2 linked regions of the Homo sapiens genome follow. The protein of the gene in region 1 purifies or fractionates together with the protein of each later gene. This does not show direct contact. Each region holds a gene or a part of one and is shown on either strand. Other genes may lie near its edges. The genes, in order: BTD and MYO1D.

Region 1 (12,612 bases):
CCAGCTGCTTTCACAGGCTAATATTGAGTGTGTGCAGCTTTTCTAGGCACATGGTGCAAGTGGTCAGTAGATCTACCATTCTGGGGTCTGGAGGACGGTGGCCCTCTTCTCACAGTTCCACCAGCAGTGCCCCAGGAGGGACTCTGTATGGGGGCTCCCACCCCACATTTCCCTTCCACACTGCCCTAGCAGAGGTTCTCTATGAGGGCTCTACCCCTGCAACAAGCTTCTGCCTGGACATCCAGGCATTTCCATACATCCTCTGAAATCTAGGCAGAGGTTCCCAAACCTCAATTTTTGACTTCTGTGCACCTGCAGGCTCAACACCATGTGGAAGCTGCCAAGGCTTCAGGCTTGCACTGTCTGAAGCCAGGCCTGAGCTGTACATTGGCCCTTTTTAGCCATGGCTGGCATGGCTGGGATGCAGGACACCAAGTCCCTAGGCTGCAAACAGCAGGGGGACCCTGGACCTGACCCATGAAACCATTTTTCCTCCTAGGTTTCTGGGCCTGTGATGGGAGGGCCTGTTGTGAAGGTCTCTGACATGCCCTGGAGACATTTTCCCCATTGTCTTGGTGATTAATAGTTAGCTTCTTATTACCTATGCAAATTTCTGCTGCCAGCTTGAATTTCTCCCTAGAAAATGGGTTTTTATTTTCTACTGCATCGTCAGTCTGCAGATTTTTCAAATTTGTATGCTCTGCTTCCTCTGGAACACTTTGCCATTTAGAAATTTCTTCTGCCAGATACCCTAAATCATCTCTCTCAAGTTCAAAGTTCCACAGATCTCTAGGACAGGGGCAAAATGCCACTAGTCTCTTTGCATAGCAAGAGTGACCTTTACTCCAACTCTGAATAAGTTCCTCATCTCCATCAGAAACCACTTCAGCCTGAATTTTATTGTCCATATCACTATCAGCATTTTGGTCAAAGCCATTCAATAAGTCTCTAGGAGGTTCCAAACTTTCCCACATTTTCCTGTCTTCTGAGCCCTCCAAGTCTCTAGGAAGTTCCAGACTTTCCCACATTTTCCTATCTTCTTCTGAGCCCTCCAAACTGTTCCAACTTCTGCCAGTTACCCAGTTCCAAAGTTATTTCCACAGTTTCGGCTGTCTTTACAGTAGTGCCCCACTCTCTGCATTACCAATTTTCTGTGTTAGTCCCTTTTCATACTGCTATGAAGAAATACTCAAAACTGGGTAATTTATAAAGAAAAAGAGGTTTAATAGATTCACAGTTCCACATGGCTGGAGAGACGTCACAATCATGGTGGAAGATGAAGGAGGAGCAAAGGCACGTCTTACATGGCGACAGGCAAGAGAGTGTGTGCAGGGAAACTCCCATTTATAAAACCATCACAGCTTGAGACTTATTTGCTATCACAAGAACAGCATGGGAAAAACCCTCCCCAATGATTCAGTTACCTCCCACCAGGTACCGCTCATGATATGTAGGGATTATGGGAGCTATAATTCAAGATGAGATTTGAGTGGGGACATAACCAAACCATATCAGGGACCCATCTCAGAGGGTGACTTCTTTCAAGTCTCAGAGTGTATCTAAAAAGAAAATGCAGATTTTGTATTATACTCTAGAATGTATCCATATTTTAATTTTAAAATGACATTTATTGAGATATAATAAAGATACAATTCAATGTCCAGATTTTAAATGTTAGATGAGTTTTGACAGTTATATATATATATATCTATGAAATCACCACCCAAAATAAAAATGACATTTTAAACTGCTTACCTGTCAAGTAAAATTGACATTCCAGAAAGATGTGAAACGGGCTGGGCACAATGGCTCATGCCTGTAATCCCAGCACTTTGGGAGGCCGAGGTGGGCAGATCATCTGAGGTCAGGAGTTCGAGGCCAGCCTGGCCAATGTGGTGAAACCCCATCTCTGCTAAAATACAAAAATTATCCAGGTGTGGTGGCACATGCCTGTAATCCCAGCTATTCGGGAGACTGAGGTGGGAGAATCGTGTGAGCCAGGGAGGTAGATGTTGCAGTAAACCAAGATTGCACCACTGTACTCTAGCCTGGGTGACAGAGCGAGACCCTGTCTCAAAAAAAAAAAAAAAAAAAAAAAAGATGTGAAATCATCTTTGCACTTTGAGTAGTCCTTGACACAATGCCTCCTGTCCTTGTTGAAGAAGTACAGACTTCCCCTTCCATCATGTATTATTTATATCAGTACCTTTTGTGACAGTCTCTGCCCCTGTTGCATTAGAGTCACTTGGAAAGCTTTTTCCAAATAGTTACTTGGGCCCTACCCCAGATCTCCTGAATCAGCATCTTAGGACAAGTCAGGCACCTGTATTTTTTAAAAGCTGCTACCTGATTTTGCTTTGCAGCCCAGAGTTGAGAACCCTAGCTCTGTTTTCATGCCAGAAGCATGAGTTACTAATTAAACATATGATTGCCTGTCACCAAAGTAATACTGTTGATTAATTTGGATTGACAGGTTCAAGACTGATTTGACATTGACAGAACAAGCTGTATCGATGGTAGTCAGTTCACTGGGCCTACTTCTGTGTCAAAAGAAACAGTGACAGAACCACTCAGTATGAAGTGCAATGAAAACTGAACTCTGAATTGGAACAAATAACTGGAATTCAGTTAACTGGTTTTGCAAAAGGATAAATACTCAACTGGTTGTTTTCTGCCATTTAACAAAGAGAAAAATCATTGGGATTGTTTAAACTTGCTTTCACCTTTGCACCTTTCAGTTCAGGATGCAGTGTTCAATTGTTAACTTGGGCTTGATGATTCAGCAGAAAGAAATGATTTGAGTTCTGGCTCACTGGATTAACAGGGCCAAGGAGCAAGTCCTTTGCAATCCAATTGTAATTACAGCCAGCTTGTCCAACCCTTGGCCCAGGATGGCTTTGAATGCGGCCCAACACAAATTCATAAACTTTCTTAAAACATTATGAGATTTATGCACCGACCCTTTTTTTTGTTGTTGTTTTTGGTTTTTTTTTTTTTTTTTAGCTCATCAGCTATCATTTGTGTTAGTGTATTTTATGTATGGCCCAAGACAATTCTTCTTTTTCCAGTGTGGCCCAGGGAAGCCAAAAGATTGGATACCCCTGACAGGATTCCAGGATTCTTTTGTAATTTCTCAGAGGCCCTCTGTGCATACTCCGTAAGGACTATCCACATTCTTTATTACTTTCATTGGCAATAGGTATAAAATTTTATTTGTTGGATATTTTACTGAAATGTTACTTGTTTTTGCTTATTTACTGATTGGTGGGAGGAAGTCAAAGGATGAATAAATCTAACCTTTTTAAAAGAAAAGGCTAAAATACTCATAACATGCTCTCCAAAGAGCAGAGCTAGTCATCAAAGAATCTGCATACCAATTACTCTATTTGTAGGTTCTGGATTTGAGATTATGAAAAAGAGCAAATTGGTGGTTTTCTTCTCTCTGGGCCAGGGAGATATCCAGGCAACCAGGTAATTTAGTAAGAATTGCAAATATAGTGCCTGGAGACAATTTATTCTCTAAAGACTGCAGCTTCTACAGGCAGTAACTCTTAAAGCCCCCAAATTGGGATAGTGCATTTTAATTTCCGTATACTAACAAGGACACTAAAAATCCTTGTGATTATTTTAAAGCATAACACTAGCTGAACTTGTGATTAAGTATTCTCACAAATGTATTATCAAAATGTGAAATGTTTACTTATCAAATGAGGAAATGAATCAAGGTCATTTGTGATACATTATAGAAGCTAAAAATGAAATTGCCTGACATAAGATAAAACTGATACTGAATATCTTAAAAATAAAAAGGCGGAAACAACAAAAAAAGGAGTCTATGTAGAACACTATTTTTTATAGCAATGCAAAAACTGTACAGCCGGAAATGTGTTGTAGGAAATATGTCAACATAGGAAGTAAAATAATGTAATGAAAAGGTTCTTTGAATAAAGTGGGTTAAATTGATTTTCTTTGCTTCTCATTAAATCTGTGGACTTCAGAGTACCAAAGCTCAGCAACAGGCTTGAAACAAACCCAGTGAAAAGCAACTTTATTATTGAGCTGAGGATTGATATCAGTAATAACTCATTAATAAAAAAGCTTGATAATAAAAACTCCCAGTGCCTGATGCCAGCTGACAGACACTGGGAGTTTTCCCAGGTACCCTGTGACCTAGAGAAAGCTTGGATTCCTGCCTTTGGCTTGGGCTGGCAAGCCCTGTGCCTTTACTCTACATTTTAATGCCAGGGAGACCTGGAACTGGAGAAGGGAGTGCTGTGGGAAGAAAACAGAAGGAATGTTGTTCCCTTGTTTTAGCTTTGTGTTCATCCATTATGGGTTTTGGGTTTTTTTGTTTTTTGTGTTTTTTTAAGAACATTTGAGATAGTTTGACAGCAGCAGTCATTACATCACTGACGAGGACGTTTACTTGTGTAAAATGCACCAGGAAATAGTGACAACTGTATGTTGTGCTATGAGGATGTAAGAGATTTATCTCAAATGGCTTAGAAATCAAAATATAGGTCAGTGCGGTGGCTCACACCTGTAATCCCAACACTTTGGGAGGCCAAGGCAGGCGGATCACGAGGTCAGTAGATTGACACCATCCTGGCCAACATGGTGAAACCCCGTCTCTACTAAAAATACAAAAATTAGCTGGGCATGGTGATGTGCGCCTGTAATCCCAGCTACCGGGGAGGCTGAGGCAGGAGAACCACTTGAACCCAGGAGTTGGAGGTTGCAGTGAGCCGAGATTGCGCCCCTGCACTCCAGCCTGGCGACAGAGCGAGACTCCGTCTCAAAAAAAAAAAAAAAAAGAAATCATAGTATTTCTCCGTATGATGGAATTCCATACTCGGGGGAGTGTCCCACAGGGTAGGCAAGCAGCTATCACCCATGTAATATGGTACTAGTGTTGAAATATTTTCTGTTTTCACTTGCTTCTTCTGCCATTAGCATTCATTACAGCCCTTTCCTTTAACTTTTTAATTTGTACTTTATTGCTTTGTTTTGATAATAATCTATTCTCCATGTCAGCAAAACAAAGATTTATCTCTAGGGAAGAATCTCTGAGTGATTCCCAGGGTTTGGGGGTTGAACTGGGGACATCTTCATGATGAACTTAAGCCCTTAAACTTCTTTTTACATCATAACGTTTGAGTTCTTCTTTGGAGCTTAGCTGTGATTTATTCTTTTCACTTCAAAAAAAATACATTTAACATTTATGACATCTTTCAGACACATGAATAGGATCAGAGATTAATATACACCCATGTACCCAGCCCCTGGCTTAAGAAATACATCACAAATATAATGAAACCCCCGTGTGTCCTTTCCCCATTACACCTCCTTTCCTGTCCTACAGAGGTAACCACTATCTTGAATTTGGTGTTTGTAGTTCCCACATTATCCATTCTTTAGATGATCGATATTTGGTCATTTTTAGTTTTTTTGGAAACAGTGTGCTCTGAAATTCTTGCATGTTTCCTTCTTGTGCACATGTGTGAGAGTTTCTACATATATATCAAGGTGGAGGTCATCATCATTTGATCTCCAAAGTATTGTACCAATTTATACTCCCAACATTTGTGTATGAGAGCTACCCTTTCTCCATAGTCTCAACTGTGGAGCTTTAAAAATTTTTAAATGTGAAATGGCTTCTCAGTTCCATTTCTCTGACTACAAATGAGGTTAAGTTATATTTGTATATATATATTGGCCATGCGTGTTTCTTTTTCTGTGAATTACGTGTTTACATCTGTTGCACATTTCCTTATTGGATTATCTTTTGCTTTTTGATTTGTAGATGTCCTTTATGTATTCTGAATGCTAATTATTTGTCTTTTAACTTTGTTAATAGTGATTTTAGAGGTATAAAGGGTTTTTTTATAGTCACATTTGACAACTGGTCTTCCTTATTTTTTTTTTAATTTTTTTATTTTTTTGGTAACTTGCTAAAGAAAACTTTTTGTAACCTGAGGTTATGAAGATTTTTTTCTATATCAAAAAGTGTAAAGTTTTATTTTTCATATTTAAGTCACTACCTGGAATTGATTTTTGTTTGTTGAGAAGTAAGAATCCATATAATATGTCAATTAGATTTGCTGTGTAATTAACCACCCCAAAACTTAGTGGCTTAAAAGAACCACCATTTATTTAACATATATTCCTATGAGGCTGGTCTCAACTGGGCTCACCCATGTATCTGTTAGTCAGTTGCCAGTGAACTGAGTCACTCAGCCCCTGGAGGTTAGCTGGTTGTCCACTGGGATAGCGGGCATATTGCCAGTGAGCCACATAGCTCTACCACTCAGCAGGCTAGCTGGACTTCTTCATTGGATGGCAGCAGGTTGCAAAAGGGAATGAGCCTCATTGTGCAAGCCTCTATGTGCGGTGTTTGCTAACATCTCATTAGCCAAAGCAAGTTATGTGGCTGGGCTCAGACTCTAAGTTAAAGGCATTCGAGTTACATGATAATGGAACATGGATACAGAGAGGGGAGAAATTGCTGGCCTTTTTTATAGTCAATTTACCATAACATCCAGTTGTCCAAGCACCATTCATAATATAGTTCATTCTCATCCCAGTGATACATAATTTCCCCTCTGTGGAATGTCAAGCTCGCATATTTATGGGAGTATTTCTGTACTCTCTGTTCTTTTCCTATCCTAACACCAATCCCACACTATCTTAATTTCTGTGTTTTTAAAATAAGTCTTGATGTTGGTAGGACAAGTAGTCCCTGGACTTCATTCTTTTGAAGCCATCTTGTTTATTATATTAATTTTAAGCAACTAGAGGGGATGGAAGAGGAACCTTTAGATTAAAAGAGATTTAAAAGATAGGGTATTTTTTAATGGACAAGACTAAACTACAGTGTCTAGGGATGCACATTGGGTGATAAAGCTATTTTAAAAAACAAAGAAGTGATGAGTATAAAAGTCAGGGTCATGGTTACTTGATCCCTCATGGGTAATGTTGTCAGATTTAGAAAAAAAAAAAAAAACAGGACTCCAAAACTCCCAGTTGAATTTGAACTTTAGATGAACAATGCATAATTTTTTTTAGCGTAAGTATGTTCCAACATATTTATCTGAAAGTTAAATTTAACTGGGCCACCTGTATTTTACCTGGAAAAATCCTGATTTTATTCAAGGTGATAATGCAGTTTACATTGCCCAGCCTTCCTTGTAGCTAGGAGTGGTCACGCGTCCACACATGGGCCAAAGCAATTTAAATAGGAGTCACTGGGCAGGGCTTTTAGGAAAGCTGATGAAACTGGCAAGTACCCTCTGTACTCTTCCTCTGTACAACATGATAATTGGAGTTGTAGAAGTCATTTTGGAACCACAAGATGACTCTGAAAATGGAAGCTACATGCCAAGAAGTTAGGCCCAGAAAGAGAGGGATCCTGGGTCCTACATGACTCTTGCCTTTGTCAGGTTTTATTATCAGATTTTTATCACTTCATAAGAAAAAAATGCCTTCTTTTACTATATTCTCACACACATTGAGTAGCATTAGGATTATTTTTTCCTTTATAGTTAGAAAGAATTCTTCTAGAAACTATTTGGGCCTGTTTTGAGGGTGGAGAATGGGAGGGAATGATTGTTTGATAACTATTTCTTCTATGATTGTTGGCATGGTTTAGTTTTTTCTTTTATCCGAAGTTTTGGTAAAAATATATTTTTCAGTCCCAGCTACTCTGGAGGCTGAGGCACAAGGATTGCTTGAATCCAGGAGGCAGAGGTTGCAATGAGCTGAGATTGCACCACTGCACTCCAACCTGGGTGATGGCGTGAGACAGTCTCAAAAAAAAAAAAGAAAAAACAAATAATGTATTTTTTTTCTAGGAAACTACTCGTCTAAATTTTCTAGCTTATCAATATAGGATTGAATGAGGTGATTATTCTTTTTTAAAAAAAATTCTTCTGCATTTATAGATTTCTCTTTGTTTTGTATATTTGTTTCTCTTTTTTTTCTTAATTAGGCTAGCCGATCATTTGTCTTTACCTTTTTTTTTCTCTAAACAACAACTCCTTGGACATACTTATTCATTCTGTCATTTTTCTGTTTTCTAATTTAATTTCCACTCTTATTTTTATTTCCTTCCTTTTGCTTTCTTGAGCATGCCATTACTCTTTTCCTCACTGTTACCACCTTTTGTTAGTTTTACAATTTCTACATTGCCAGAGTTAATAACATTTGCACTGTGTTCTATAAATATAATCCTCATGTTTATTTTACATTCAAGGCTCTTGCCAGTTTTTCCATTCACCTCTTAATTGGCCGAAGATTACCCTCTATGCATTTTTTCAAAGAAGGCTGATGAGACTGATGAGAATAATAGTCCCTGAGTTCTTATATTTTCATACCTATTATCTGGTTTTTTTCTTTACTTCAACCATAGGTTGGCATAATATATAATTTCTGGCTTATATTTTATTTTCTGGAAGGATTCTATAGGCTTTTACTGGCATTGATGTTATTGTAGTAAAGTCTGAGGACAGCCTGATTATTTTGCCCCTAATAAATACCCTTGATCTTTTTATTTAGCTTCCCAAATGATTCTTACTTTATCTTTGAAGATCAAGAATTTTGCTAGGCTATCTGCCGATGTTGATGTTCTGTTCCTTTCTTTCTTGAGTTTTGCTATCTCTTTTCAAGCTATAAATTGAAATATGCTTTTATTTCTGGTGAGTTTTCTTCAATTACATCTTTAATTTTTTTTTTTTTTGCTTCATTATATGTTGTCTATTGTTGTATAAAAATTTACCCTACGACCTATTCAGCAGCTTAAAACAAGACCCATTTATTATCTCAAAGTCTCTATGTGTCAGGAGTCTGAGCATAGTTTTACTGGATCCTCTGGTCAGCATCTCACAAGGCTACAGTGAAGTTGTCAGCTGACCTCATGGTCTCATCTGAGGCTGAGTTTTCTTCCAAATTCAACTGATCGTTGAAAGAATGAATTTCCTTGCAGTTGTAGTATTCATGGTGGCTTGCTTCTTCAAGGTCAGCCGGGGAGAGAGTGTGTCTGAAATCTTGGAGCACCCCAGTTCTTTTTTTAAAGACCTGATTAATTCAGACCCACCAGGGTAATCTCTTTTGATTAACTAGATTAACTGGCTTGGGATTTTAACTACATATGTGAAAGCCCTTCACCTTTGTCATATTCTATTGGCTAGTAACAGAGTACAATTTCCACCTGCACTCAAGAAAAGAGGATTATACAAGGAGTCACCTTAGGGTGTGTCCACCACACATTATTTTTTTCTTTTATGCATTTTCCAATTATGCATATGATGGATCTCGTTCACTGTTCTCCCTGTCTATCATTTTCTGTGGACTCCTTTTCAATTCTGTATTTCCATTCATGTTGCTTATTTATTTACAGCATCATCTGATTTCTTTTGCTGCTTCTATCTTTGCCATAATTTCTTGATGTTTTAATTTTTTCTTCTGCTTCTTTCCTGAGCCCTGCCAGATAATATTTCATCTGTCTCCCAGCTTTCTATTCCCCACTCCCTTCTCCCTTCTCTCTTCTTCCCTCTTCCCCCTCCTTACCTTCTCCTCTTCTCCTCCTTTCCTCCCCTTCTCCCCTTTTTCCCTTTCATCTTTTAATTCTCTTGGTCTATTTTGTGCTTTTATTTAATATAAGCAGTTTTTTTTCACTCGTGGCAGAATGTTTTGTCACAGTTTTTATTTGTGTTGTGGCAATTTTCTGGGGTATAACCTTTGTTTTCGTATAGTATCTTTCAAAAGATCTTGAGCTTTTTATTTACTCATTTTTGAGTGAGTTTTTCCTCTACTGTAGGAGGTTTATGTGTGAACAAGGCCATTCTGGTTCACAGTTATTTTTTCTTAGCACATTTAAGATTTTGTTTTCTTACTTCTATTGTTACTCTTGAAAAGTCTGCTGTTTTCAAATCACCATATCTTTGAAGGCAATCTCTCTTCCCTCTGGTTGCGTCTAAGATTTTTTTCTTCTTCAAATATTTCGTGTTCTGGTTTCTTTATGTTGTGTATAGATTTCTTTTTGGTTGTCTTGAATCTATGGATTTCTGTATTTTATTATTAAAATTCTCACCTATTATACCTTCAAACATGTGTAATGTGTCATGTGTCATTTTATGTATTTTCTCCCTCTTTCTTTCTTTCTTTTTTTTTTTTTTTTAAGTCAAGGTCTTGCTCTGTCGCCCAAGCTGGAGTACAGTGGCACAGCCGTAGCCCACTGCAGCCTTAAACTCCTGGGCTCAAGCAATCCTACCACCTCAGCCTCTTGAGATGCTGGGACCGCAGGTGTACACCACCATGCCCAGCTAATACTTTTTTACTTTTTGTAGAGATTATATTGCCCAGGCTGGTCTTGAATTCCTGGCCTCAAGTGATCCTCTCATCTTGACCTCCAAAGTGTTGGGATTACAGGCATGAGCCATTGCACCCAGCCTCTATTTTCTCCTTCTGAAATTCCAATTAGAAATATCATGGAACATCATATATGTCTTCCATGTCTCATCTTCTTTTTTTCCCTTTTGTCATCTCTGTGGTACATTCTAAACAAATTTTTTAATGATTCTAACGGCCATGCCACAAAATGTCTCCATTTGGTTTTATTTGACAATATCTTTTTCTTTTTTTTTTTTTTTTTGACACAGAGTCTCTCTCTATTACCCAGGCTAGAGTGTAGTGGTGTGATCTTAGCTCACTGCCACCTCCGCCTCTGAGCTCAAGCAATCGCCCTACCTTAGCCACCCAAGTAGCTGGGACTACAGGCATGCACCACCACACACAGCTAATTTTTGTATTTTTTGTAGAGATGGGGTTTTGCCATGTTGCCCATGCTGGCCTCCAACTCCTGGGCTCAAGTTATCTTCCTGCCTTGGCCTTCCAAAGTGCTGGGATTACAGGCATGAGCCACCACTCCCAGCCAACAATATCTTATTCTTTTACCTGTTTTAGAGTCCTCTGAGTACTTCTTTAATCAACTTCAGTGTACTTATTTGAAAATTTTCACTAGTAATCCTTCCATCTGAAGTTGTTGGGGGCCTGATTTTGCTGTATTCTTTAACTTTCTTGCATAATATTTGCTTCCTTGTGTGTTTTGTAATTTTGAATTTTGAGCTCTTGTTTACCTTGTTCTTCAACCCAGGACACTCAGTCTTCAAGAAGAGAGTATGTGGATAGGCTTTTCCAGGCATCTTAGGACTGATAACATCTCAAAATCACTTTGTGCTCATTTCTTGGCATAGAGTTACCTGGGTCATGTATGTTGTGAGTTTTTGAATCATGAACCCACATAAGGAAAACCTTTGATTATGTTGGTTATGACTTTCAAGGAGTACTATTTTCCCCTGCTCAGAGCCCAAGATGAGATGTACAAGTTTCTACGTCAGATAGTTACTTTGGCAGGCAGGCAGATATTTGTTTTTGTCCATCCTTTCAATAAAGGAATCATTCCTTAAGGTTCCTAGCTATATGCACAGATCTCACTCCAACCTCCACATCTTGTCTTTCTGTCCTTCATGGTCTTTAAAATCTAAACCCCTTGGATATCAAGATTGGGACATGTTCCAGTATCACCTCACCACTCCAGTTTTCAGTTACTTGATTTTAGTTTTTATTTTTTAAATGCTTTTTTTAAAAGAGAAGTTTTATGCTCACAATAAAATTGAGCAGAAAGTACAGAAAGTTTACATATACTCCCTGTCCTGATACATGCATAGCCTTCCCTGTTATCAATATCCCAGACTAGAATGGTATGTTTGTTATAATCAGTGAACCTGCATTGACACATTATTATAACATGAAGTCCATAGTTTACATTAGGATTCACTTCTTTCTCCCTTAACACTTGGCAACCACTGATCATTTTACCATCTCTGCAATTTTGCTTTTTCCACCACTGGAAATGTTACATATTGGAATCATACAGTATGTAGCCTTTACAGATTGGTTTCTTTCCTTTAGTAATATACATCTAAGGTTCCTCCATATCTTTTCATGGCTTGATAGCTCATTTCTTTTTAGCACTGAATAATATTCCATTGTCTGAATGTATCACACTTTATTAATCCATTCACCTACTGAAGAATATCTTGATTGCTTCCAAGTTTTGGTAACTATGAAAAAAACTGCTATAAACACTCCTGTGCAGTTTTTTTGGAGACATAAGTTTTCTACTCCTTTGGGTAAATACAAAGAATACGATTGCTGAATCATATGATAAGAGTATGCTTCATTTTGTAAGAAAATGCCAAGCTGTCTTCCAAAGTGGTTGGATCATTTTGTGTTCCCATCAGCAATGAATCAGACTTCCTGTTGCTCTATATTCTCAACAGCATTTGGTCTTTTTAAAAATTGTTTTGGGCCGGGCGCGGTGGCTCACACCTGTAATCCCGGCAATTTTGGGAGGCCGAGGTGGGTGGATCACCTGAGGTCAGGAGTTTGAGACAAGCCTGACCAAAATAGAGAAACCCTGTCTCTACTAAAAATACAAAAATTAGCCGGTCGTGGTGGCAGGCGCCTGTAATCCCAGCTACTCGGGTGGCTGAGGCAGGAGAATTTCTTGAACCTGGGAGGTGGAGGTTGCAGTGAGCCAAGATCGCACCATTG
Region 2 (12,612 bases), on another chromosome or scaffold:
TGGGGTTGGTACTTGCCACCCAGGAAAGTGGTGCTTGCCACCAAGGTGAAGGATCAAGGCAAGTGTCCCCACAGTGATCAGACACCAATGGAGTGTGGGTGAATAATCAGGCAGGCGTCCCTGCAGTGATTAAACACCAAGGGAAGACTGTCTTCCCGAATCCGTGACCGGTGCTGAAGTTTTGTGTTCACAGATAAAACACGTCTCCTCTGTCTCTACCAGAAAAGGAAAGGAACTGAAATTAAGGGAAGGGGGAGATTGAAGGGTGGCGCCGAAATTGAAAGGAGAAAGAGGTTGAGGGATAGTAAGAGAGGTTGGAGAAGAGAGTAAAAAGAGGCCGCTTACCTGATTTAAAATTGGTGAGATGTTCCTTGGGCTGGTTGGTCTGAGGACTTGAGGTCGTAAGTCAGTCTTTCTCACAGAGCAAAGAGCAGGAGGACAGGGGATTGATCTCCCAAGGGAGCTCCCCCGATCCAAGTCACGGCACCAAATGTCATTAGTTAAGGCAAGAATCTGCCATTTTCACTTCTTATGTGATTCTTCAGTTGCTTCAGGCCATCTGGATGTATACGTGCAGGCTTGGGCTCAGAGGCCTGACAGTTCCCTAAGAAAGTGGCTCCTGTTTTATTTTAGGGGCACATTTTCGGGTTAACCATTTTAATGTGTTTTTTCTTAGTCTCGAGTGATTGTGCAACAGCCAGGAGAAAGAAGCTTTCATTCTTTCTATCAGGTTAGTAATCCATTATACAGATAATTGATCATTTGCCCAGTTGTGCAGGAAATGAGTATTTGTGTCTTGGGCTTTCCCCTGTCCTATGCATCACTCATCTCCATTGGCCCCGTAACATGTCACGCATGCACGCACGCACGCACGCACCACATGCCCTGCCCTACCTGCTTAAGAGATTGGATGAACATGACTGTTCCACCCAGCTGGCAGGAGCTTAGCCAACCAGATGACTGCCTTGGGTGAGCATCCCCCATATTTTCTTGCAGTACAGATAACACTTTAATGACTGTGAAAGCTTTTGAAATGGTACATTCTAAATGTTAAATTAATTTTTGTTTTATTTTGAATTGAAGCTGTTGTTTCCATATTTGGGAGTTCTAGAGATCAGAATACAAATTCAGTTTGTTTCACTCATACACACTAAAAGCAATATGATTACTTTTAAAAAAACAATCTGGATTTATAACTTCTAGGGAGGATTGCCTTTTTAATCCATCAAGTTTAGAAAAAAATTTGAGTATTTATTTTCAAGAGTGCTTTTAGATTTTAAAGCAAAATCTTTTAAATAGCCTTCCTGTTGGCAAGTCTTTACACTTAGAAAACAAGTATGATATATTATTGTAAGTTTTTAAAGCCCAAATTAATGTAAATCAAGGTTAACAGAAAGTAACTGAACGGTGACAATACAATTGGATGCAATTCAGTCGAATTCAGTTTCTTCTAGGTAACTGCTTTAATAGACACTACTCATTTGTATATATAAGTTCTGGTATATTAAGTTTAAAAATCAATTTTTAAAATCTGATAATTAGACTTTTTAAGTAAACAAAAGCATACAGTTTAATTTAGAGAATTTAAACCTAATACCTTCCAAAAACATGCTCTATATAAAAGCACTGTCAATATTGTGTTTATGGTTCTGTTGGCAATTTGCCATGTTTTAAATAAGCTATTTTTCTACCAAATATAAAAGAGTTCTGTTTATTTCAATAACCTGTAACTTTTTCCCAGTGTTCTTCCCACTTGGGTGAAAGTATTAAAATTTATCTTTATCCAATACTACAATCATGGTTCCCCAGCTGTCCTCTTTTCCTGAGAGGTACAGATTGATGAGGAAAAGCTGTTTGTTTCCAGTGTGATTCAGCATATGACTGTCTGCTGATGTTTCTTACTTCCGTAGCAATATTGACTTTTTCTAAATTCTGAGACAGAACTATATCCTGTCTATAGTGAGGCTGCTAAGCAAGCAACCACCACAGAGCATAGGATCCTGTTTTACAAATGACGGCATTCAAAGCAAGAAACTTTTATGCCAGTTATATTGTAAATGAGATGAGACATTTTCAGAGTAATTTTCTTTATGACTGCATAACATTCTCTGTAACTGATGACATTGAAGCCATTTACCTTGAATGTTTAAAAAAACAAACAAGCAAAACTTCAAAGCTAGAAACAGGAAGACATAAGTGAATTAAGCCCAGAAAATGAATAAAAGCTAGATTACCACTAAGTTCATGTTTGGTTCAATGTATGTCTGGCCAATTTATTTCTAATTAAATATTTTTCAGCTACTCCAAGGAGGTTCAGAACAAATGCTACGCTCTCTACATCTCCAGAAATCCCTTTCATCCTACAACTATATTCATGTGGGAGCTCAATTAAAGGTGAGAATTTCCTCTTTGAGATTGCTCCAATAGAAAATCAGTCAAAGGATTAGAAGAGACATTCAATAATTATCTGGTCAAGCCTGCTATCTTTAGGCAAATAAACATCTCTTTTATCCTGTTCTATTTTTTAAATTCTCAAGGACAGAGATTCAGCACATTTTTGAATCAACAACTTTGCTTAAAATCAATTATGATATTTTATCACCATCTGACAGGAAAGAAGTTTTTTCCTACATTCAATGTTTTATTTTAATTTTTAATCCTATCCCTATTCCGTTTATTTTCACACTATAAAAATATTGATAGGACTAGGAAGCCTACCTCCTAAGAAGATTCCATATGATTTGGCCAAAGGCAAGTTAGTAAGACAAAATTAAAATGCACTTTGATTCTCCACTCACTGTTTGTTCAAATGTTGATTTTGATGTACCCTAGAAATAATTTTGTGACCTTTGAGGCATTCCTATTCAGCTTTCAAGTTTTTCCATTTTTTCTCTTTTCTTGCATGCAAGCACTTGCATACACTTACATGCAGGCGTATTTTTGCTCTTTTATTTCTAGTTCATTTTATTTCTAGTTCATCTAGTAATTTTACAACTAATTATAATAATAGTTTGTTGATAATAGTTACACTATTATCCTATTTCGTAGGAGGGAAGGTATATAAATGCATATAATAAGATATGGTAGGATATAGATCACAGTATTAATTATTTATTCTAGATGGGTGAGATTATGGATATTTGTGTTCTGTTTTTCCTTATTTAAAAAAATTCTACATCAAAAACTTACTGCTTTCATATTTGGGGGAGAAATAAAAGAAACTGTAAAGGAAAAAGATCTAAGATATGGGAGCTATTTCTTTAAAAAATTCTATTAATCAAAATAAGCTAATTATACCTGCATTATTGGTTTAGCTGTATTTTTATTGCTGTGCATAGAAATTAATGATATTTTGGTTTTTGCAATTAATTTTCCATTATTTGACATTTAGGTTACAACAACTTTACTTTTATGGTCATCTGAGAGCGAGCAGGATGTTTGGCTGAAAATGAATTAAAAACAAAAAACAGTAGAGGGCAACACTCCACCTCTCTGAGAACTAGCCAGAGGCACTTAAAGAATTGTGAAATCAACACCTGGAAAGCCAGTGACTGGGAATGTTTGTTTTCAAATTGTCTTATCGACTAAGTTACTTTTGACCAAGTCGTGTAGAGTCCCCACAGAAAGCAAGTATTAAATTAATAGCCTTTTTTCTAGGTTAAATTTAGCTTAGATTCCCTTTTTATCAAAAATTTCCATGTCTGCTTTCCCCACCTTTTTTTTTTTGCTTCCTAAGAAAACAAAGAACTAATAAATGATCATAGTCAAAACCTAAACTATGAACCAAAAGGAAACAAAAATACACTAAATCTTACCATACAGAAATGATTATTGATAATGGTTTGCATCTATATTTATAAATGGAATCATACAATAAATCCTAATTAAATAAACCTGTTTTTATTATAATCTTTCCATGCAAACAAATATAAATTAATATAATAATTTTTATAACTATTAAGTATTGCACTGTGTGTATCTTAACCAGTTCTAAAATGCAGGAGTCATATACAGTTAAGATATTTTGGGTTGCAAGTAGGAGAAGACCCAATTAAAAGTCTCCAAAAACAATAAGAAACTTAATTATCTAGCATAACAAGAAACTCTGAGATAGGACAATTCCAGAATTAGTTAGTTCATTGCCTTAACAATGTTGTCAGGGACCCAGGTGTTTTTTTGGTTGTTTCCCCAACTTACAACTCTGCCACACTCATGGACAGCTCTGTCCTCTTAGGCTGGTTTTCCTTTTAGTCCCAAAATGTCATCAGAATTTCCAGGAGTCACCTGCAAAGGAGATGTTCATGGCATATGTCCTTTATAAGCTAGGGAAACCTCCCCAAGAACCCTCCTCCACTCATCCCCCATAAACACTTTCCCTCATGTTGTATTGATCAGAATGGCATCCCATGCCTGTGGCTAACCAGTCATTTAGTAAGGGAAATAAGATCACTCTGATGAGTTTAGACCAGTGAAGATTTACCTCTTGAGGCTAGGTAGATGCCAGTCACAAAGGACATGCACACTTAGAGAGGAGTAAACAAATCAGGGTTCGATTGGCAAGAAAGAAATGAGGGTAGAGGATGGCTGTTAGGTAAGCAGCCAACAGTTCCCCACAGTAGGACATTTAGATTTTATCCAGTTACTTTCCAACTTCAACATGGTTGCAGTTTATAATAATAGTAATATCTGATACTGCTGAGTGGTTTTTTTTTGTATGCTGGTGCTAGAGAGGTGCTTTATATAAATTTTCATTCAATTCTGACAACCACCCTGTAAGATATATGTTATTATGCCCATTTTATTTGTGAGGAAGTTGAGGTTCAATGAGGTTAAGTATCTTGTCCAAGGTAAAAACAAAAACCTAGGAGGAGGAGGGGCTGGCCTGGTTGTCTCCTGGACACTAGAGGAACTTGTACTCACCAGGCAGAGAGGTCCCCTTCCAGGGCCCTTCCTCAACAAGTGAGCATCAGGCCAGGTCTCTGTATCCAAACAAGAGGAGAAACTTACTGAGGAAAGAATTGGTCAAGCCTCTGCGGCTGCTGCTGTGGTAAAACTAATATAAGCAGTTACTATTGCTTTATTGCGAATTTCTGTTTACGCACTTGTATTTCCAATGTGATGGCCACAGCTCTAAAAGGGCAGGCGATTCATCTTTGAGCTGCCTGTACCAGTTAGTAGAGCTGACTTGTGAAATGCGTATCAAGTGAGTGAAAGAATGAAGTTATAGTCCCAGACTATTTAATAGCTTACTAAATGACTGAGGCTGGCTGTTTTGCTTTTGAGGGCCCGCCTTGCCTCACCTGGAAAATAAACCGCCTGATTATACGAGAGTGAAGTGTTGTTGCCAGCCTAAATAAGACAATTGTGGAACAAAGAGCCACAAACAACAGTAGCCAAGCATGTATCTTGGAGGCTCCCACATTCAGCACTTGCATTTGTGATCTCACATCCATGCTGTTGCCTTCACTGATCATGGAGTGGGGGATCAGCTTGTCTGAGCCAGCTCAGGACTTGCTCCCTCACTGAAGGTTCCAGAAAACGGCACAGTGCTTATTTTAGGTGATGGCTTTCACGCACAAGTGGGCTTTGTACGTGCTGAATAATGTTGCAACTCGTGAAATCATTTTTATTTTCTCTGGAGACTCACCATCCCCTCAAGTGATTTACTATGAAGGCAAAACCTTGGTATAACTTAGTTTTATAATTGTTGAATTTTAATGCTCATAGGAAATATCTGTAACTTCAGTTTTTCATTTTCATCCCCAGTCTTCTATCAATGATGCTGCCGAATTCAGAGTTGTTGCTGATGCCATGAAAGTCATTGGCTTCAAACCTGAGGAGATCCAAACAGTGTATAAGATTTTGGCTGCTATTCTGCACTTGGTGAGTAGGGACACCTCTCAGAATGTATTGTCTTCTGCTGAGAACAGGATGCTTTCTCAGAAGATTTTGTTTTTTCCCTGTAGATTTAAAAAGTATTCAGAGAAAATTTTGTACGTATTTTGAAGAAATTACTATGTCTGTGGTTCTTGCCATCATTTTATAATATTATGAGGGATTTTCCAAGCTACTATAGGGTTGGAGACTACTACTTCAGTTGATTGTCTTACTGGTATTGTCAAACTTTGAACTGGTTAATTTTAAGGATAAAGGAATTCAGCAGTGATGTGACTACTAGTGGTATAAATTTCTAGTGGCATTTGAAACATAGAATCATAGGTTATCGGAACTGGATTTTTAATCATCTCATTTTACAGATTGGGAAATAGCCCTGATGGGTGGCATGACTACCTCAAAGGCACAGCCAGCTCATCCCAGAGCCAACACCATAGACCACTTTTGGGCCACTTGTTTCCCACTATACCACACCAAACTTAGAAGTGAAGAACTGTGTGTTAGATTTCTTTCATTAACATTTATATAATTAGAGATACTTAAAATACACTGAACATATAATCTTACAATAAGAATGACAACATGGATTCAAATCTGGAATAAAAATTACTTTTCACTTAATATAGCAAGATTTAACTCTAAATGAATCAGAAATGTGCAGGATCTTTATGAAAAATATTATATAGCAATATAAACAATAAATGTTCCTGACTAGGAAGACTTTAGTATTATAAATTGTCTCATCTGTTTGAATCAGTTTTTAAATACAGTGCAGCAGTCCTTTTCAGAATCCAAACAAGAATTTTATTTTTTGTTGTTTTGTTTTCTTTTTGAGATGGAATCTCGCTCTGTCACCCAGGCTGGAGTGCAGTGGTGCAATCTAGGCTCACTGCAAGCTCCACCTCCCGAGTTCATACCATTCTCCTGCCTCAGCCTCCTGAGTAGCTGGGACTACAGGCGCCTGCCACCACGCCTGGCTAATTTTTTTTATTTTTAGTAGAGACGGGGTTTCACCATAGCCAGGACAGTCTCGATCTCCTGACCTCGTGATCTGCCCATCTCAGCCTCCCAAAGTTCTGGGATTACAGGCGTGAGCCACTGTGCCTGGCCTTTATTTTGTTTTTAACTTGACCTGTTGATTCTAGAATTTACCTGGAAAAAGATCAAATAAAGTATATTAAAGAAGTGTCGTATAGGGTAGGGTAAGGGAGGAGAGGGAACATGACTAGTTCTACCAAACTTAAAATGATAGTAAAAGCTAGAGTACTTTATAACTTTGCACAAGTTCAGCACCAGATCAACAGATTAATCAACTGATTGGTTAATGTGCTGGACATTTGGTAGATGGTTATAAGTATGTATTGCTTATTGAATGAGTGGAATATAAATAGACTCAAACACTTGAGGAGATTTAACATATTAAAAAGGTGACATTTCAGCTGGGCGGGGTTGCTCACACCTGTAATCCCAGCACTTTGGAAAGTTTGAGGTGGACAGATTGCTTGAACCCAGGAGTTCCAAGACCAGCCTGGGCAACATGGCAAAACCCCATCTATACAAAAAATACAAAAATTAGCCAGGCATGGTGGCACGCATCTGTAGTCCCAGCTATTTAGAGGGGCTGGGGGTGGAAGGATCGCTTAAGCCTGGGACGTTGAGGCTGCAGTGAGCCATGGTGCACCACTGCATTCCAGCCTGGGTGACAGACCCTGTCTCAAAAAAAAGGTGACATTTCAAATCAGAAAAAGCTAGACTGTTCAATAAGTCCCGTTAGAGCAACTAATCATGTGAAAAATAAAGTTAGATTCTTACTTGATACCATGTACCAAAATCAATTGTGGATGGATTAAAAAGTTTAAGGAAAAAGGCCAGGCGCGGTGGCTCACGCCTGTAATCCCAGCACTTTGGGAGGCCGAGGTGGGTGGATCATGAGGTCAGGAGGTCGAGACCATCCTAGCTAACATGGTGAAACCCTGTCTCTACTAAAAATACAAAAAATTAGCTGGGCGTGGTGTCAGGCACCTGTAGTCCCAGCTCTTCAGGAGGCTGAGGCAGGAGAATGGCGTGAACCCAGGAGGCAGAGCTTGCAGTGAGCCAAGATCGCACCACTTGCACTCCAGCCTGGGCGACAGAGCGAGACTCTGTCTCAAAAATAAATAAATAAATAAAATAAAAAGTTTAAGGAAAACAAAAACTATAAAAGCATTAGAGGAAAGCATCAAATGCTCATAAACCCTTTGGAGTAGGAATGGTCTAAGTATGACACCAAAGAAAGAGAGACCCTAAGGCAAAAGATTCATAGATTCGATTACATAAAAATGTAAAACTTTTATCTATCAAAAACATACACTGAAAGCAAAAAGATAGATGAGTGTCCGGAGAAAGGGAAAAAGTAGATGAAACACTGTTTTTATATGTTGAGATGTATAATGTATTTAGGAAAATAGGTACAAACAAGGTCACCTGAATTGTATTTTATATTGGCAAATATATCCTTGACATAATGTTTCATAATGTGTTATTTTTTTCACTTTTGATACAGGGAAATTTAAAATTTGTAGTAGATGGTGACACGCCTCTTATTGAGAATGGCAAAGTAGTATCTATCATAGCAGAATTGCTCTCTACTAAGACAGATATGGTTGAGAAAGCCCTTCTTTACCGGACTGTGGCCACAGGCCGTGACATCATTGACAAGCAGCACACAGAACAAGAGGCCAGCTACGGCAGAGACGCCTTTGCCAAGGTGAGAGTGTAACTGACCCTATGTCACCTGGTGTTGATCGCAGTTGCAAATTGAGTGAAATCCTGTGAGCATGTATTCAGACATTCTTGAAAGAGGGTTAAGGCTTTTAGAAACCATAATGATACTTTCTGGCCATACAAGCCTCGGTAAAACTCCCAGATGTAAGTAAGCATCACTGCCAAAAAAGGTTCTGAGAAGAGTGGAAGCTGACTGGGGGTGGCGCTCATGAGGGCTTCACGTGCTGCTTCTCTCACTCAATAATGCTTCGCCAGAGTCAACTGACTGAGCTCTGATCCATTTTTTTTAAGTTTTATTTATTTTTAATTGACAATAATTGTATATGTTTATGGGTACAGTGGGATATTTCAGGACATGTACACATTATGGAATGATCAGATCAGACTAATTAGCATACCTCTTACCTCACCTACTTACCATTTATTTGTGGTGAGAACATTTAAAATCCACTCTTAGCAATTTGAAACAATATTATTAGTATTATTATTAACAGTCACCACGCTTTGCAGTGGATCACCACAAATTATTCTTCCTGTCTAACTGAAACTTTACCCTTTGACTAACGTCTCACACTTTCTCCATCCACCCCGCTCCTCTAGCCTCTGGTAATCACCATTCTATTCTCTGCTTCTATGAGTTTGACTTTTTCAGATTGCATATAGGTGAGATCACACAATATTTGTCTTTTTGTGCCTGGCTTATTTCACTTAGCATAATGTCCTCCAGGGCTGTGTACTAAGCCTGCAGTGATAGTACCACAATTTATTTAACCACCTTACTCTTAAGTCACCCACTTTACTTCCCTTTTTTGCAACTGCAAACAATGCTGCACGTCTTTATACATCTATGCTTATATACTAGTGCTTTTGTTTCAGCTGGATGGATTCCCAGGAGTGAGCTTGCCAGGTCAAAGGGTATACTTATTTTATTTTTATTTTTTGAGACGGAGTCTTGCTCTGCCATCCAGGCTGGAGTGCAGTGGCACAATCTTGGCTCACTGCAACCTCCACCTCCCGGGTTCAAGTGATTCTCCTGTCTCAGCCTCCCAAGTAGCTGGGATTACAGGAGTGTGCCACCACGCCCAGCTAATTTTTGTATTTTTAGTAGAGACAAGGTTTCACCATGTTGACCAGGCTGGTCTCGGACTCCTGACCTCAAGCGATCTACCTGCCTTGGCCTCCCAAAGTGCTGGGATTACAGGCGTGAGCCACCGCACCTGCCATATATTTATTTTAAACTTTAAATTTACTGATTTTATGGCTGCATGGTAATATTTTATTGTTACTTTTATTTCATTACTAGTATATTTGAGCATCTTATCATATTTTTGTAGAGTATTTTAACATATTCTAAGAATTGCCTGGGTATATCTTTTGTGCATTTTTCTTTGGAGCTGTTATCTTTTTATTGTCAATTTCTAAGTGTTCTTAGCATATCATAAACTTTAACCCTTTGTTATCTGTGTGGCAAGCGTTGTATTTTCTCACGTCTAACTTTCGTTGTTGTTGTTTTGCTGGTTGATTAGTTTACTGTCTATTTCATTTTTTACTCTTGTAAGTCTTAGGCTTGGTTTTTAGTTTTGGGGGAATTTGAATTTTTCCTAAGTGCAATGGAGAGCAATAGGGAGGACTTTAAGGAGGGGCAATGACATCAAGTTTGCCTTTTTTTTTTTTTGAGATGGAGTCTCGCTTTGTTGCCCAAGCTGGAGTGCAGTGGCACAATCTCAGCTCACTGCAAGCTCTGCCTTCCGGGTTCATGCCATTCTCCTGCCTCAGCCTCCCAAGTAGCTGGAACTACAGGCGACCGCCACCACGCCCAGCTAATTTTTTATATTTTTAGTAGAGACAGGGTTTCACCATGTTAGCCAGGATGGTCTCCATCTCCTGACCTTGTGATCCACCCTCCTCGGCCTCCCAAAGTGCTGGGATTAGGTGTGAGCCACCGCACCCGGCCGTTTTTTTGTCTTTTTTTTTTTTTCTTTTTTTTTTGAGACGGTGTCTCTCTGTCACCCAGGCTGGAGTGCAATGGTATGATCTCAGCTCACTGCAACCTCCACCTCCCGGGTTCAAGCAATTCTCCTGCCTCAGCCTCCTGAGTAGCTAGGATTACAGGCACCCGCCACCATGCCTGGCTAATTTTTGTATTTTTAGTAGAGATGGGGTCTCATCATGTTGGCCAGGCTGGTCTCAAACTCCTGACCTCAGGTGATCTGCCCACCTCAGCTTCCCAGAGTGTTGGGATTACAGGCATGAGCCACTGCACCTGGCAAGTTTGCATTTTTAAAATGATCACTCTGGCCTTAGTATGGAGAATGTTATGGGGGCTAGAGTAAGAATGGAAGCAAAGAGGTCAATTAAGGGGATATTTTGTTAATCCAGGAAAGAGATGAGGGCAGCTTGAATCAGAAAAGTGAAAGTACAAATGGGGAGAGGAGGATGATTTGAAATGGACTGTGTTGAGAAAATAAAATCCATAGGACCTATTATGTGGAGAATGAGAGAAGCAAGAATAATACTTTAACATGGTCTGGCTCCAGCCCACCTCTCCCACCTCATTTTATACTATACCCAGCCCCCCTTTCTTCAGCCCAGCACATTAGTCTTCTCTCAGTCCTCACAGATTATCCTGATCCCTTTCTCCTTCCAGTCACAGGGCCTGTGCACATCTGTTCCCTCTGCTTGGACTGCTCTTCTCTCCTCTCTTGCTTGGCTACCTCTTACTCATCCTTCTGGTCTCAAGTATCACTTTCCCAGAGAGGCCTTCCCTAACCTTCCTGAGCACTGCATAGATTAAATTTCCCTAAGACCCCATGTACCTCTCCTTTAGTGTGGATGTTTATCTGCGAGGTGGGGGGCAAGTGAGAGAGACAGAGAGAATAATTTTTTCCTTCACTCTATTCCCTAAGTTTCTTGGACATTGAGACTATGTTTGTGTTTGCCTAGACCTGTATCTCTAACAAACTATATATAATAAGTATTCAGCAAATATTTGTTGAATAAATCAGTGAATTTCTAAGTGGTGCTATTTATTTGTGGCTAAAAGTAGGATAGGAACAGTTGTTGGAAGAGGAAAGATCAAGAGTCCTTTGAGTTTGAGATGGCTGTGAGCCATTGAAGAGTCAGTGTCAGGTAGACAGTCAAGCTCTTGAGTCAGGAGCTCAGAGACTGTTCTCTGAGTCTGGATTTGGATAATACTTTTGGGAGTCATATTATATTTGTATTATTTAATCCTGGGTGAGATGATTTAGAAGGTGCTAGAGAGTGAAGAGAAGAGGACCAGGAAGAACTCCAACTTTTACAAGTCAGGTAGAAGAGGAGACTCTACCAAAGGTCACCAAAAAGGAACATCCAGTGAACAAAGAGTAAAATTCAGAAAGGCTATTATCCGAAATCCAGAGAGAAGAGTGTTCCAAGAAGGCAGTGAAAACCTAGGTTGAGTGATGCTGAGCGACAGAGCAAGATGTCCATATGAGGTACGAGAAGTATCTATGTAGAGGTGCTGGGAGTCTTTGATGAGCCATTTCAATGGAGTAATAGGATGTAAGTGGAGACTGGAGTGGATTGAAGAGTAAAGGGGAGGTAATGGATATGGGTGAAGAGAGTGGGTAGCTGGCAGGAGACGTTAAGGAAGGTTTTCTAACGATGTGACGTTGCAGAGCACATGTGTATCGGGATGTGAATGTGTGTTAGCGTGTGGCACCTTTGTCCATGTGTGGCTTAGTGTGTGTGTTCTTGTGCATTGGATGTGTGTTCGATTCTCAGGGAATTTCAACCCTTGATCTTTGGCTCAGATCTTCATTTAGCATTAGAAATCAATATTTATATTTTTTAGAATTCATATAGCTTTAGTGGATCATAGATATTAACTCACTAGCTCTCAACTCTTTATAGTTGATGAAATTAATAATAAAGCAATGAACTGGCTTATTCAAGGGATCAGGCAAACTATTGATA

Evidence for each region.
Region 2: the proteins of BTD (region 1) and MYO1D purify together in Homo sapiens (affinity purification with mass spectrometry; 2 studies listed by BioGRID and IntAct, with this or other methods). This does not show direct contact.

What each region holds. Positions count from the first base shown.
Region 1 is NC_000003.12:15,603,968-15,616,579, forward strand, and holds part of BTD (biotinidase isoform 1 precursor), read left to right. Parts: intron 1-2,473; exon of another isoform or gene 2,474-3,963; intron 3,964-12,612. UniProt on the Homo sapiens protein: Catalytic release of biotin from biocytin, the product of biotin-dependent carboxylases degradation.
Region 2 is NC_000017.11:32,760,907-32,773,518, reverse strand, and holds part of MYO1D (unconventional myosin-Id), read left to right. Parts: intron 1-676; coding exon 677-730; intron 731-2,298; coding exon 2,299-2,394; intron 2,395-5,766; coding exon 5,767-5,883; intron 5,884-8,437; coding exon 8,438-8,641; intron 8,642-12,612. UniProt on the Homo sapiens protein: Unconventional myosin that functions as actin-based motor protein with ATPase activity. Plays a role in endosomal protein trafficking, and especially in the transfer of cargo proteins from early to recycling endosomes.